Linked DNA regions of Homo sapiens. The protein of the gene in region 1 purifies or fractionates together with the protein of each later gene. This does not show direct contact. Each region holds a gene or a part of one and is shown in the gene's direction. Other genes may lie near its edges.

Region 1 (5,640 bases):
GAGGAGACTGGTGGTTTGGGACACCTGTTATTAAAGTACCTTCCTGGTCAAGTTGAACAACAACAACAAAAAATTGGCAATCTTTATGACAGTGCCAATCAAATTGTGGACATGAGGTGGGATGCATCACTTGAAAGCCATACTTTTGAGATACATATTTTAAAACTCTTACCTAGAGTATAATGGTGGTTACCAGAGAGAGGCTGGGAGTTGCGGGGAAGGGAAGGGTGCTGGTCAAAGGATACAAAGTCACAGACAGGAGGAATAAATTATAAGTATTGAAGGTGATGTATATGTTAATTTGAGTGAATCATTCCATACTGCATACATATAAAATTACTGAATATCCCATAACTATATATGATTATAATTGGTCAAAGTAAATAAAAATTTTAAAACTCTTCAATTTTATAAAACTCTTACCTAATATTAATTTTTAATATCATATGAGGATTTTTTTTTTTAAGAGCCTAGGCTAGAGTAACTTACTACAACCTCAAACTTCTGGGCCGAAGCAGCTCTCCTGCCTCAGCCTCCTGTCCCAAGCAGCTGGGACTACAGATGCGCACCATCACGACCAGATAATTTTTAAATTTTTTGTAGAGACAGGGTCTTGCTATGTTGCTCAGGTTGGCCTCAAACTCCTGGTCTCAAGTGATCTTCCTCAGACTCCCAAAGTGCTGGGATTACAGGCATGAGCCACCTCGCCCAGCCAGGATTTTAAAATTCTTTTTTAACCTTGGAGATACCAGAATTGTATTACTCATTATCCTTGGTTCCTAATAGCATTGGTTCATGCATGTTCTGCTTTTATTTACATATTAGCTATTTACCTTTAACAATATAGTAGCCCTGATAGGCCCAACTCCTACATTGTAGGACATCCATGATCTCCTCCCCAATCCCATCCCATCCCCAAGCTCCCCATATGCGAGGTAACCATCATTCTGAATTTCATATTTATCATTCTTTGCTTTTTGTTTTGTATAATTTTAATGACTTCATGTATACTCTTAAATGTAAGGGTGTGTTTATTTTCAACTTTTAAAAAGGTTGTCATACTGTATATAATCTTTTGGGATTTACAGTTTTTCCTTACTATTGTTATGATTTCTCTATATTGTGGGTCACTGAAGTTCATTCTTTTTGAATGCCATGTAATATTATGTTATAAGAAATATCACAGTTTATTCATCCAGTATCCTGTTGCTAGTTATGCAGATCGCTTTCAGGTTCTTGTGAACTATGAAGGAGTAAATAAAGACCAACCAGGTAATTTTCTTAAAATAAATAATAATAAAAAACCAAAAATGTAAAATATTAAATAGTAATGTTTAAAGTGGAAGTATAAATCTCCCTGTAGTCATATTCTCAGAGATAACCAGTGTTAAAATTTGGGATATCTCTTGTCTTCTTTAAAATATAATGCATATCTGCATATACATATTATATACATATACTATATACACATTAAGTTTTTTAAAACAAAAATGAGATCTATAACTTGCTGTTTCCATAGCAATATATCATGGATATCATTACTTGTCAATATGTAGAGATGTACTTTATCCTTTTTAACAGTTCTTTGGTGTTTCACTGTCGACATGTCAATATTTATTCCCTAAACCCCAACTTTGGTTATTTTCAATTTTGTACTGTTGTAAACAATGTTGTAATGCAGATTCTTGTACATACATCTTCGGGCATTTGCTCAATTATTTCCTTAAGATAATTTCCTAGAACTGGAATTGCTGGGTTGAAGGATATGAAGTTTTATTTTTGTCTGTCTTCAACTTTATTTATTTATTGCTGTATATTGCCATATTGCCCACCAAATATCAATTAATAATTTACATTCTTGGCATCATAGTATAGTTCTCTGAGCAGGGAATACCTAGTCCAACCTGAAGTTCAAGAGCGACTTCTTGGAGGAGGTGACCCTGGGTCTGAGTCATGGTGAGAATTTATCAAGACTTCAAAAGAGCAGATAAATAATCCACAAGGACCCCGGATCAGAGAGTGCTCCGAGCTGGGTTGCCCCACTGTGCTTGTATCTGCACTCTCCAACACTAGGCATCATTGACATGTTAAAGCTTAGCCAAATAGAATTGTTCTTTGTCATTCTTTTTTTAACTTTTACTTATTCATTAGGATGATTTCATAATATATTTCCTGGTTTAGAGGAAACAGGAACAATGGCTACCGAGAGTACTCCCTCAGAGATCATAGAAAGAGAAAGAAAAAAGTTGCTTGAAATCCTTCAACATGATCCTGATTCTATCTTAGACACGTTAACTTCTCGGAGGCTGATTTCTGAGGAAGAGTATGAGACTCTGGAGAATGTTACAGATCTCCTGAAGAAAAGTCGGAAGCTGTTAATTTTGGTACAGAAAAAGGGAGAGGCGACCTGTCAGCATTTTCTCAAGTGTTTATTTAGTACTTTTCCACAGTCAGCTGCCATTTGCGGCTTAAGGCATGGTAAGTTGACTTTGTATACTTTTTGGGGTGAGAGGAAGGGGGCAGACTTTCTGAAAAAGAAAACAAAATGAAAGAAAATTGTTGCCTTTTATTTTTGTTAGTCTTTTTCTGGAGATAATTTTCATTGAAATATGAAATAGGGAAAAACTGGAATTTAAAAAGTTTCTGAAATTTAACATCTTATTGGTCTACTGAATCGATAATTTGTTTTTCAGACTGTACTCAAAACTTGAAGTTGTTTTAGTGCTAACAAACTGCTCATTATTCTGGCAGTAACATGCTAAAATCTCACAGTTGGAAGGAAAATACTTTAATAATAACACAATCCAGGGTTTGTTTTTCAAGTAGATGAATTCGTGGATATTTACAGTGCCAAGACCACAAGCTGTATCTTTCACTTAGTATAGCCGTTTTGAAAATACAAGGAAAATAATTTTTAACACATAGATGGCAAATCAGTAGTTTCATTTTTTTGGTGATAAGAATGCCAGCAGCAGCTGTTTTCTGGAGCAATTCCAGTGCTAATTCTTAAATGGTTCAAAGATAACTAGTAGTCCATGAAAAAGCAATTCTTCCAGTTATTTAGCAATTCTGTAAATTACTACTAGGACTAGGTCTAGCTCTTTTTCTAGGAATCTAAAAAAAAATTCAAAATTATTTTAAGGGATGTTAGAGAGGTAGAGGCTCAGATAAAAAGGTGAATGTTAGTGATACCTAATTTAGGACAAGATTTATATGCTTAGAAATTTTTCTTTTATTATTTCTAAAGCACACTATTCCAAATAGAGCCATTTGCTTACTGATTAGAAATTATTTGTGATCAGATTTCATTAGCAATGACCCCAAGAGACGTGAGTCTGTTGTGAGTCACAGTAAGTCCACAAGTAAACACTGTTCATATGATTCAAATTTTTCGTTTTATTCACTTACCCTGTAAGGTTGCTAGGAAGGACTCAAACTTTAAGCAAGACAGTGGTGTGATCTGATTTTTTTTTTTAGTGGAAAAAAGAAAGTTCTGAAAGTTGACATGTTGACATGCAAGTTATATAGGAGGTGTTAGGTATTCCTGTCCTCCAGTGAAATAAGAGGTGGCTGGGCGCTGTGGCTCACACCTGTAATCCCAGCACTTTGGGAGGCCGGGGCAGATGGATCACCTGAGGTCAGGAGTTTGAGACCAGCCTGACCAACATAGTGAAACACTGTCTCTACTAAAAATACAAAAATTAGCTGGGCATCATGGCGCATGCCTGTAATCCCAGCTACTTGGGAGACTGAGGCAGGGGAATCACCTGAACCCGGGAGGTTGAGGTTGCAGTGAGCCCAGATCGTGCCATTGCACTCCAGCCTCGGCAACAAGAGTGAAACTCTGTCTCAAAAAATAAATAAATAAATAAAAGGAGAGGGATGAAGCTTTGAGGCCTCAGGAACTCTAGCTGTTATACAGCTTCTTTTTCTTAATTGGGAAAAACAATTCTTTTCTTTGCAGAAGTTTTAAAACATGAGAATACAGTACCTCCTCAATCTATGGGGGCAAGCAGTAATTCAGAAGATGCTTTTTCTCCTGGAATAAAACAGCCTGAAGCCCCTGAGATCACAGTGTTCTTCAGTGAGAAGGAACACTTGGATTTGGAAACCTCTGAGTTTTTCAGGGACAAGAAAACTAGTTATAGGGAAACAGCTTTGTCTGCCAGGAAGAATGAGAAGGAATATGACACACCAGAAGTCACATTATCATATTCAGTTGAGAAAGTTGGATGTGAAGTTCCAGCAACTATTACATATATAAAAGATGGACAGAGATATGAGGAGCTAGATGATTCTTTATACTTAGGAAAAGAGGAATATCTAGGATCTGTTGACACCCCTGAAGATGCAGAAGCCACTGTGGAAGAGGAGGTTTATGATGACCCAGAGCACGTTGGATATGATGGTGAAGAGGACTTCGAGAATTCAGAAACCACAGAGTTCTCTGGTGAAGAACCAAGTTATGAGGGATCAGAAACCAGCCTTTCATTGGAGGAGGAACAGGAGAAAAGTATAGAAGGTATGGAAATATCTTGTATAGTTAGTTAGGCAACAACTTAATAAGTTAATAAGCTTGCCATGACATAATGGGGATGGGGGATGAAAAAGGGACAGATGTCAGCAGAAAATCAACTACTAAGAAATTCCTCGTGCCTCTCTGACCTGGAATCTCCTCGAGGTAGGTGTTGACTTAAAGGAGCTCCCAGGACCTAGGAAATGATGGACAGCATAAGCAAAAGTAAATATTGATTGTCAGTTTGTAAATTTCTGTAGTTCGTATAAGGAGTTGCCAATCATTAATTTCCCATTATACGTACGAGGAGTTGCTAATCATTAATTTCAGGCTAACCTATTTCTCAGGTTAAACCACTTTAGTTATTTTAGTGCCTTTGTGACCAGAGAGATATGGGGATTATGGGTTTGACTATTTAAGTGAAAACAGTCAGTAAATGGCTAAGATCCCAAAATATTGTTACTTGGCTTGATCCAGTCCACATAATGCCATCTTGATGAGAATTATATTTGTATCTTGAATCTGAATATTTCTTTATTTAAAAAAAATTTGTTTTTAAACAGGGTCTCACTCAGGCTGGAGTGCAGTGGCACAATCATGACTCACCGCAGCCTCTACCTCCCAGGCTCGGGTGATCCTCCTACCTCAGCCTCCTGAGTAGCTAGCATTACAGGTGCCTGCCACCACGCCTGGCTAATTTTGTATTTTGTAAAGATGGGATTTTGCCATGTTGCTCAGGCTGGTCTCGAACTCCTGGGCTCAAGTGATCTGCCCACCTTGGCCACCCAAAATCCTGGGATTACAGGTGTGAGCCACTGCACCTAGCCAAATCTGAATATTTCTTAATGAAAATTCAAAATATGAGAAGTGTTTCATTGGAGTGATATTGCCTGGGAAAACAGACATCACTAAGTTCTGAGTAGAGGATGAAAATGTAGCTACCATCTCACATTAATTTCAAATCTTGGGGACTCATAATCCACTTATGGGTAGGAAGAGAGTCATTTCTTCCTCATCACACCTTGTATCAGTTTGTGAGGGATGCTGTAACAAAATACCACAAAATCAGTGGCTTAAACAATAAACACAGATTTCTTGTCTCACTCTTTTGGAGGCTAGAAATC
Region 2 (5,143 bases), on another chromosome or scaffold:
TTAAGTCTGAAATCTTAGGCTGCAAATCCCCTCAGTCCCCCAGGGCGTATTAATGGCTCTGGAATACAGTTTTACTGCATGTGATAGGAATGAATATTTTGACACACACACACTCAAAAGCTGTTCTTAATCTTGAGACTTCCTCCTCTCTGTTGCCACATATATATCTTTTAAATGGCTTTCCAAGAAAGCTGGGCTGTGCACAGTGTCTCAGAATTAGTGTATGTGCACACACACGCACGTTGCTCCCTGCTGACAACATCCTCAGACCATACCCTTGGTGTTCCTGTTTTGCTCCTGACTCTTGGCCTAGGGACAGTGAATCTTTCTTGAATGACCAAGGACAGTCAGGGATCTGAGGAAGGGAGAACCCAAATTCTACAATTGCTGATGCCTGCGTCCCAGCTGGAACTTTACCCTGGTACGTGCTCTGTGCATCATGGATGGTCACTTTGATCCTAACAGCAGTGCTGTTTAGATTAGACATCAGAAATAGAAACAGTAAGTAATATAGGCATAAAGATCAAGTGTTTTTCTAGTGTATGTGTGATCACTGATATTTGCTTACACAAGACTATCAAAGTCTTATCTCTTATTCAAAGAAAAGGATTCAATATTTGTTCAAAATCTAAGATATGAACGTAGGATTTAAGGTTTAAGTTACTAGTTTCTTCTATCATTCTTATTATTGGGGGGATTTTTTTTAGGCAAGAAGAAATTAGAAAAGCTAAAATGTGTACTTATGCTGAATTTTTGTCATGCAGAGGCTCTAGGTATTTTGCAAGTTTTCAGAAGTCCCATTTTCTTTTATCTTCTAGGGACAGTCAGTTGCATGTCACACAAGGGGCCTCCTTTGATTTATCCAAAAGGTCTGACCTGGTTTCTGGAAAAACTCTTTAGCGCATCAAATACTCGTTGAGGGCAAGTGTTGTTTCTAAACTTGACTCTTGTGGTGAGAGGTGAGTAGTCACTGGCATGTCAGTTAGCTGACATTTTTTACCCACGCTAGAAAGTTCATTCAGGCAAGACTTCCTGGCTTGAACTCTTATTTAAACATGTGTTTTATCTGGAACTGCCACAGTCCAAACTGTGGGCAGAGATTCCTGTGCAGAGTTGGCTAAGGCAGGCATGCCACCGGCCCTTCTCTTCGCCATCCTCCCTGTCTCTGGAGCCATTGAGCCAACCGGGGATGATGCCACTCTGAAGGGATCTCACCTTGGTCCTCTAATGGGGCAGAGTTCCCTGATGAGGGATGCACGTCCTTAGAGCCAACAAGGCAATTTTGTATTATACTGCATGGAAATTAAAAGTTACTCTCCAGTAAACTGCCACTTTAGAATTTGTTTTACTGAAGCGTCCTTTTCCTCTAAATTATAGAGCACTGTAGTAAGGGCCCAGATAATTTCAAAGTGAGCACCAGATTAGTGCCAGATTTTGGCAGATTAAGATTTTAATAAAACATGAACATTCACCTTGATTACATTTGTTTCAGAAAGTTGATGTCCCTTGGCCTTCTGTTCTGTCATTGCCACCATACAGGTTAGGGTCAGAATTGGGAGAATGTAGTCATTTGGTAGATATTTTCAGAGCCACATGCAACTGGGCCTGGCAGTCACATATTGCTAAGGAAACGCCTTACATGATAGCAGAGCTGAGAGCAGATGATGATTTACTTGGGAGAGTATTCGTTTTCTAATTCCCAAAAGATTAAAAGTCTAATGAGTAAGAACTTCCCCTGCTTCTTGTAACACATGCCCAGATTGCTGCCTATGACCTCAAAACCAAACCTTCTTGGAAGGAACTGGGGGAAAGCTAGGCTTTTTTGGCAGGGGATATCCTAACTCCTTACAACACAGGCCCCTTCAGTGAGTGGGTCATTTCTGGACTCCATTTAACAAAGCTAGTGTTTCATACTTAATATGAAAACAGGCGTGTTGATGATTTCAAATAGAGATGTTGGGTCTATAAAGTATACCAGACATGCAGGGCTGAAATGGAAGAAACAATGGGTTTTGGAGTCAGAACCAGGATCCAATTCCTGTTTTATTCCTTACTTCAGGGGTCCCCAATCCCTAGGCCATGGACCAATACCAGTCGGTGGCCTCTTAGGTGGGCCGCACAGCAGAAGGTGAGCAGCAGTGAGCAAGCATTACCGCCTGAACTCTGCCTCCTGTCAGATCAGCGGTGGCATCAGATTCTCATGCGAGGGGAACCCTATGGTGAACCGCACACGCGAGGGATCTAGGCTGCACATTCCTTATGAGAATTTAATGCCTGATGATCTGAGGTAGACAGTTTCATCCTAAAACGATCTCCCCTGTGCCCCTACTCGCCGCTGTCTGTGGAAAAATTGTCTTCCATGAAACCAGTTCCTCGTGCCAAAAAGGTTGGGGATCACTGCCTTAACTAACTGTGTGACCTTCACCAACATACTTAACCACTCCAACTCTGTGTCCTCCTTTGTAAACTAGTTACAATAATGCTTTCCTTGCTGGGCAGTTTTCAGTATTTGATGAGCTAATCTATGTAAAGTGCTTAGCACATCACCCAGCTTCTAGTAAGTCATGATTATGATGATAAAGATTATGATGATTACTTTGGTTCCAGGGCTGGTCTTTCCTTCTCCTAGTTGTGTGACTTCAGATAAGGTTTTTAATCTTCTTGAGCCTTGGCTTTTGAATCTGTAAAATGGGCTAACTCTACCTATCTGGAAAGATTGCTTTGAGGCTTGATTTGATTAAATGAAATGATGACAGGCCTGATCTGGTAGACCCTAAATAAGAATAGCATTTACATAGACTTCCTGTGTCCCACACTGGTCTAAGAGTTTAGGGTTTTTGTTGTTTGTTTTTAGCTCATTTTATCTTCCCAGCGCCCCTGTGCAGTGGTTATCATTTCCCTTGTTTTATAGAGGAGACAACTGAGGCTCAACAAGATTAAATAACTAGCCCAAAGTCTATCCCAGGACTTGAAGCAGAGTCCCTGTTCTTAACCACTGCCCCAGCTGCTCAGTGAGTACCCCCACCCCTGCTTATTCTACCTACCTCCTGATGCCCATCTCCTGCCATTAACAGTCAGATGTGCTTATGCTCTGTGTAGGGCCATATTTCTGGAAACAGAGCCCCTGCTTCCAAAGAGCAGCTTACTTAGGAAGTGAAAGTGGCAGCTCACTCCTCCTGTCGCCTCCTCCCACTTCCAGATAACATTAAACCTCATCCATTGCTTAGGCTGGTTAATATCAACTGGAAAAAAAAATCTGATACCGATATTGACTAACATTATTAGAGTGGGTTGCAATGTTAGTTTTGAGATAAATGTCATCTCGATGCACTGAGATTGTTAGCCTGTGTGTAATAAAACATGCCTTCACCCAGACAGATGTGGGGGGTGTTTGGAAGACAGAAACCAGGCCTAGGAGATCCCAGGTTGAGACTCAGGTGGACAGCAACAGTATTGAAAATAATATTACATCAAAGGTGCAGTGGTCTGTTCTAAGTACACCACCTTTTCTGACATTCCTTACTCATCCTCCCTCTCCTTTACCCCAGTGGCTTTGGCCTCTTCTTGAGTTCTGGCAATCTTCCCTGAGGTCTGGGTCAGTGGAATTTGGGGGCCCAGAAAGGCAAATTCTCAGTTGAGTGAGGTGTGGCTTCTTTAGCATTCCTGATAATGAGGTAGTAATTGCTTTTCTGGCTTTCTGTGTGTGTGAAGTGCTCTGCTGGCCCCCTACCCTGGTGTGGAAGGCTGTTAGAAAGCTATTTATAGCTCTTGGTTCCTTCTGGCACTTTGGGGCTTCAATTCTGCAACATGTTAATTCAACAAATATTATCAGAAAGTCTTGCTGGTGCCAGGAGTCTACTAAGTACTTGGATTACAGCAATGAATGAAACAGACCCTGCCTCTGGCCATATGGAATTTGGAGGCTGCCGGGTGGAGAGGATGTCTTAGTCAGCTTGGGTTGCTAAAACTATCACAGACTGGGGGACTTAAGCAACAAACATTTATCTCTCACAGTTCTGCAGGCTGGAAGTGTGAGACCTGGTTGCCAGCATGGGAGTTTGGTGAGGACCCTCTTCCTGATTTGTGAAAGAGGTTTCTCATGTCTCTTGCTATAAGGGCACTAATCCCATCATTGGGGCTCCACCCCCACGACCTCATTTAAACCTATTCACCTCCCAACAGCCCTATCTGTAAACACCATCAAATCGGGGGTTCTCCCTCACCATGTGAACTTTGGAGGGACATAAACATCAGTCCATAAGTAGGAGGTTAGGGCAGTAAGCACACAGGTAAATACATAATTGTAACTTGTGGAAAGTGCTTTAAGTGAAAACAACAGCATGTCATGAGACAGGAGATCAGAGCAGAACTAGAATTAGGAGAGTCTGGGGACGCCTCTCAAGGAATGAGCCTTTTCAACTAGGACTTGGGATGAAAAAAAGAGTGAAATCATGCTGGATGCAGAGAACAGTGGGTTCAAAGACCCAGAGGTGAATGGGAAGGATGTGGGTGTGTTGAGTGGCTGGTGTGGTAAGGCCCAAGCCCAGGAGGGTACAGAGCTAAATAATGAGACACACTCAGGCCAAGTAGGGCCTCCTGGGCTGGGTAAGGATTTGGGATTTTATTCTGAAGTGCGGAGGGAAGCTTTGGAGGAATTTCCCCTCCTGACTTTTTCCTGTCATTCATAATATACAAGAAAAAGATCATTAGTCACTTCTATTTATTCAGATAATGAACAATCTCTACTTCTTAAGCTATATAAACCTTGTCTTAGTGTGTGAAACAATTCTGGAGTGTCTAGTTTTCAATCTCCAGATGAGGGAACTGAGGCTCAAAACAAAGTGAAAGAAGGCAGAGGCAGGATTTGGAACCAGGCCTGCCCAGCCCACGGCACATGCTCTGTAGTTTTCTGGGACAGATGAGTGTAAATGCATATGGGCCTCCTAGGCACCCGGCATCCTTCATCAGGAGCTTCAGTGGATGGACTAGGGTGGAGTCCAGTCCTTCCTGGCTCTTTAGAAACAGGAACAAAAGACCCCGAAGAGTGGAGGGAGGTTGGGCATGTACAGGTCAGGGGGTCAGAATCTGTAGGCACCAAATGTCAGGGCCCCCTGGCTATGGGAAGGGCTGTCAGTTTTTCACG
Region 3 (5,143 bases), on another chromosome or scaffold:
CTCCAGAAGCTGCAGAATCCTAGAAAGGAAAATAAACAGGTACACTGGCAGGAGTGGGAGGTTGCTGCTGACTTCTTGATAGCTGGGGAAGAGTCTGGGGAAAAAGAAAGGGAGGGAGGGGAATTTTAAAAGTCCTGCAACCTGGAGCCATTTAGTGAGGAGAGAGTTAGTCCTTCCTAGCCAGGTAAGCCCTGTGGTCTGGACTGTATTCTTGCTCAGTAAAATAAGTGTGATCTGACTTTGGGCAGGGCACTTATCATTTCTTTCTTTCTTTCTTTCTTTCTTTCTTTCTTTTTTTTTTTTTTTTTTTGAGACGGAGTCTTGCTCTGTCGCCCAGGCTGGAGTGCAGTGGCGCGATCTCAGCTCACTGCAAGCTCCGCTTCCCAGGTTCACGCCATTCTTCTGCCTCAGCCTCCTGAGTAGCTGGGACTACAGGCGCCCGCCACCACGCCCGGCTAATTTTATTTTTTTGTATTTTTAGTAGAGACGGGGTTTCACCGTGCCAGCCAGGATGGTCTCAATCTCTTGACCTCGTGATCCGCCTGCCTCGGCCTCCCAAAGTGCTGGGACCACAAGCGTGAGCCACCGTGCCCGGCCTTATCATTTCTTAACATTATCTGTGAGAAGAAAACAGATAATGTTTAAGTGGAGTAACAGGAAAAAGGGGAACTGACATTTCTCAAAAGCTTCTTGTGCTAGATGGTTTGATATGTACTTACATGCCTCAATTCATTGAATCCTCACCATGACATAGACGTAATTGTCCCCATTTTGTAGGTGAAGAAAATGAGGCCTCAGACTATGTTCTCAAGCCTCCTTAAAAAGAGCTAATTATATTCCCTATGCTCAGTGGAAGAAAGCAGAGGACTGTGTAGTACATTCTATTAGTAGTTCCATTTTAAATTAAGAAAAAGTTTGGTCATCTTGGCAATCCAATAAATGATAATACCCTATCATTGCTGCCATTTAAAGTGTTTCTAAACACGAAGAGTAACCCAAGACAAAGCTAATGACATAATATATATAAAAACAGGATGACAAGTATAAACCTGAACTCAAGGAAACATACCAAGATGTTAAGAATAATAATTTCTGAATAGTGGGGTTATGAGTGATAATATCCTGGAAAATATATAAAACTATATAATAAAACAATTATCTACTTTTCTATATTTTTCAGTTTTTACCATAAAAATATTTTAACTTTATTAAGGAAAGAAAACTTTTGGTGCTTTGAAGAGATAACTTCTCAGCTATATATAAAGTTTCAACACTATAAAAAGACCTATTTCCAGAAAGTTCTGAATGGGCCATTGTCTTCTTGGAGCAAAAACAAAATAAAAGATAAAAAACAAAACAACAGGCAAACCCCTTCCATCAACAAGGAGTCACTGATTCTAATGCAGCTGATTTATTTCAAGGAGTTATTGGACCCATGACCTTAGAGCTGAGATACAAAATGTGGTTCCAAGTCTCTTAGCTTCCAGATTAAAAGAAAAGCAGTTTGTTCTTGTGTATTAGCCTGACTTAATATCTTACTGGAATTTCTTCCTGCTGACTGTTTGATTCTGTTTTAACTCTAAGACATCAGCTTTACATAAAGATAAAAATTATTTCCCTCAAACAAAGGAGAGGCATGGTGATTCTTACCCCCTTCCTTATGGATTGGATTTAATAATATTTCTAAATTGTTTTTTGACAGTTTAACTCTTCTTGCCTTTGGATGAGTACTAGCCAAACTCGTGTTTTTGCTAGGTAGATGCTGCGTTTGAGTTCATGCAGCACGATGGCCCAGTTAAACTGCAATACATTACACTAATGATTCTGGACTAAATACTACTAACTAGGCTTTGCTCCTTCTTTCCTTTAGGGAGGCATAGGGAGAGCACCATATTTCATTTGTATCAGTCTTGTATTTAAAATGGTAGTTACAGTTTTTATGATTGTTTTCACATTAAGCCTGAGTTTGAATGATACGAACTTTGGATAATGCCTTGAATTTATTTATAATTTTAAGGAAAATCTTATTGCGCATTATAATAGATACTCTAGCAAACCAGAGCAGGGAAAAGATCTCTTACCTAAAACACAAAAACATTTTAAAAATTCTGTTTATCATTCTTTTACATTTATGCTAATTTTTATAAATTAATTGGGAGGAATAAATATAAATGAGTTACAATTTCAAGGAATTCCCCTCATTTCTTTTTTATTACTGGTATAGTGAGGAAAAAATGGTACATGAAAAATCTGAGCTTATAAAATAAAGGCTAAGAAGTTCCCGAAACCTTTCCAGAACATTGCAAAATGATTCACCATAGTATATCTTTCTATATTAAACTTTATAAAGAATTTAAAATATTAATAGTCTACATTTGAAGAGAATTTTTTTTTCATTTGCAAGGTGCTTTTACATACAGTATTTAATTTCATCCATGGTAAAACCCTGTGAGTTAACTGTCATTATCTTATTTTTACAGTCCAGGAATTGAGGTTCAGTGAGATTAAGCAAGTGGCTTTTCAAAGGTTTTGCAGCATTTTCTATTTAACCAATTTGGGTTTTGTGTAGGCTTACAGAGCATGTGTGTCATGTGAAGATAATGTGGCTTATTGGAAATTATAGTATTTCTTTGGAAAAAGTATTTTAATTAGGGTCTCTGGTACCACAGATTATTTATGCTCACATCAGCATGCATGATTTCAGCTAAGGAATAAGCTCCTTCTGCTATGATACTTGAAAAGTGGGATATATGATGCTTGAAAATGGGATAAAGTAAAAAATAAGGATCAACCTACTGATTATCTACATTGGGGTTAGCAAACTGTACCCCACAGGCCTAATACCCCCATCACCTGTTTTAGTAGGTAAAGTCTTATTGGAACACAGCGTTGCTCACTGGTTTATGTACTGGCTACAACTGCTTTCACATTGCAGAGACAGACTTGAGCAGTTGCAACAGAGACCATGGCGTGTGAATCATAAAATATTTACTTTTTTATAAATACTTCACAGAAAATTTGCTGTCCCTTGGTGTAGATGATACTGAAAAACTACCTTGAGTATTCAGTTTTGATAAAAGTATCTAATTTCTGGCTTTATTTAGACCTCTCAAGCAACAAACAAATAAAAAACCAAAAAATAAGAACAGATTTTGAGTAATTAGATGAGTCTTGCAGAATTCCAAGAATAGTAGTTTGTTTCTTATCAGTTTTCCTAACCAACAGTGGCAGGAGGTCTTGGGGCCTTTTACAAATGTATTAAACACCTATGACTACATGTAAAACTCTATGCTAATACAAATGTATCACCTGGGAAAAAACAGTGGCTTACAAGAGGTTCCGCCTGAGCTTTAGGACCTTCTTTCATTTCCATCAACTGATCATGGAAGTTTTACTTTGTCTACAATTCTGCAGAAAGCTTCCAGTTTCATATAGCCCCTTCCTTCGCATCAAGAAAATTACTTTCTCCTCTGAACCCTCATTTCGTTCATTCAGTTCTTAGCATATGCTGGTATTTAATTTGTATGTTTTAGTCTTTCAAAACTCTAAGCTTGATTTTATTATGCAAGTAAAACATTTTTTGAAATGACAGAAGAGCAGAAAACAGATTTGCACAATGAGGAAAATAAAAGCTCTCATTTGACTGCTCAGACAGAACAATTCCTAATGTTTTTGTTGTATATCTTTACTAATATTTTTATAATGGTATGCTAGTAAACTGTTGGGGAAAACAAGCCCTGATTTTCAGTGTTTGCTGATTTCTCAAATGCGTATATTCTCATCATGATTGATCAAGCTACCAGTTGTTTAACAACTGGCTCACAAAATTCCTATTTTAACAGTCTGCTCTCTTGAGTCAGTATGAGCCAGCTCAAACATTTCACTGTTTATATGTATGTGTGGGTATGTGTGTGTAATCTGTATATATTTTTTATATATGTGATTTTCTTTTTACAAAAAATGGAATTTAAAATATATGATTCTATTGTAATTTGCTTCTTTCACATACCAAATATGGTAAAAATACGTAGCCTGGTCAACATAGTGAGACTGTTTCCTCACAAAAAATAAAATTAGCTGGGCACAGTGGCATGCATCTGGAGTCCCAGCTACTTAGGAGGCTCAGGAGTGAGGGTCCCTTGAGGCCAGCAGTTGGAGGCTGCAGTGAGCTATGATCACACCACTGCCCTCCAACGTTGGTGAGAGAGTGAGACTGTCTTTTAAAAAAAATTTATATATTGGTATATGTACTTCTATACCATTGATGTTAAGGAATGTATAATGTTTCATTGAATTGATATATTAGGGTTTATTTAATTATTCTTTCATTTTTGGGACCTTTAGAGTATTCCCAGCATTTTGCTATTATACATAATGCTATGATTTAAATTGTTGCAATACGTTTTCTTCTAAGTGAGATCATACGTGATAACATGTCATAACTAAAAGTGCTATATAAATATTAATTTTCGTTTATTATTATTATTATTGTGCATATGTCCCACTATCCCATTTAGATTGTGAGTGCCCCCAAATGAGGCAGGGGTATCCAGCTGTCTGCATTCCCCACAGCACTTAGTAAACCACACCCGCATTCATCTCATATTTGAGAATAAAGATGATTATCAGTTTATTCTGTTTTTGTTTTGTTTTAGTTTGTTTTTTTGAGACAGAGTCTCGCTCTGTCACCCAGGCTGGAGTGCAGTGGCGCAATCTTCGCCTCTTGTGTTCAAGCAATTCTCCTGCCTCAGCCTCCCGAGTAGGTGAGACTACAAGGGTGCACCACCATGCCTGGCTAATTTTTTAATTTTTAGTAGAGATGTGGTTTCACCATGTTGGCCAGACTGATCTCAAACTCCTGACCTCAGGTGATCCGCCTGCCTCAGCCTCCCAAAGTGCTGGGATTACAGGCGTGAGCCACTGCCCCCGGCCAGTTCATTCTGTTTTCTAATCTTTGATGTGATCAGTGGTCCAACAGTGTAAAGTTGCTAGGCCTCATACAGTCCTCAGTCATTAATTTGAGTTTTCCTTCAGAGAAAATTCAATTGGACGTGCTTGGGATTGAACTCATGGCCTGAACTTCATTGACATTATTTCCAACTGAAAAAACTGGTCTGTGTGGTTTTACATTGTTTTCATGTAA

What was found. Proteins that work in one complex are often made in the same cells at the same time.
Region 2: the proteins of CARD6 (region 1) and NOD1 purify together in Homo sapiens (affinity purification with western blotting, with the first as the bait; one study listed by BioGRID). This does not show direct contact.
Region 3: the proteins of CARD6 (region 1) and XK purify together in Homo sapiens (affinity purification with western blotting, with the first as the bait; one study listed by BioGRID). This does not show direct contact.

The regions. Positions count from the first base shown.
Region 1 is NC_000005.10:40,839,188-40,844,827, forward strand, and holds the start of CARD6 (caspase recruitment domain-containing protein 6), read left to right. Parts: upstream 1-2,179; 5' UTR 2,180-2,195; coding exon 2,196-2,478; intron 2,479-3,964; coding exon 3,965-4,522; intron 4,523-5,640. UniProt on the Homo sapiens protein: May be involved in apoptosis.
Region 2 is NC_000007.14:30,471,664-30,476,806, reverse strand, and holds part of NOD1 (nucleotide-binding oligomerization domain-containing protein 1), read left to right. Parts: intron 1-818; exon of another isoform or gene 819-959; intron 960-5,143. UniProt on the Homo sapiens protein: Pattern recognition receptor (PRR) that detects bacterial peptidoglycan fragments and other danger signals and thus participates in both innate and adaptive immune responses.
Region 3 is NC_000023.11:37,687,769-37,692,911, forward strand, and holds part of XK (endoplasmic reticulum membrane adapter protein XK), read left to right. Parts: intron 1-5,143.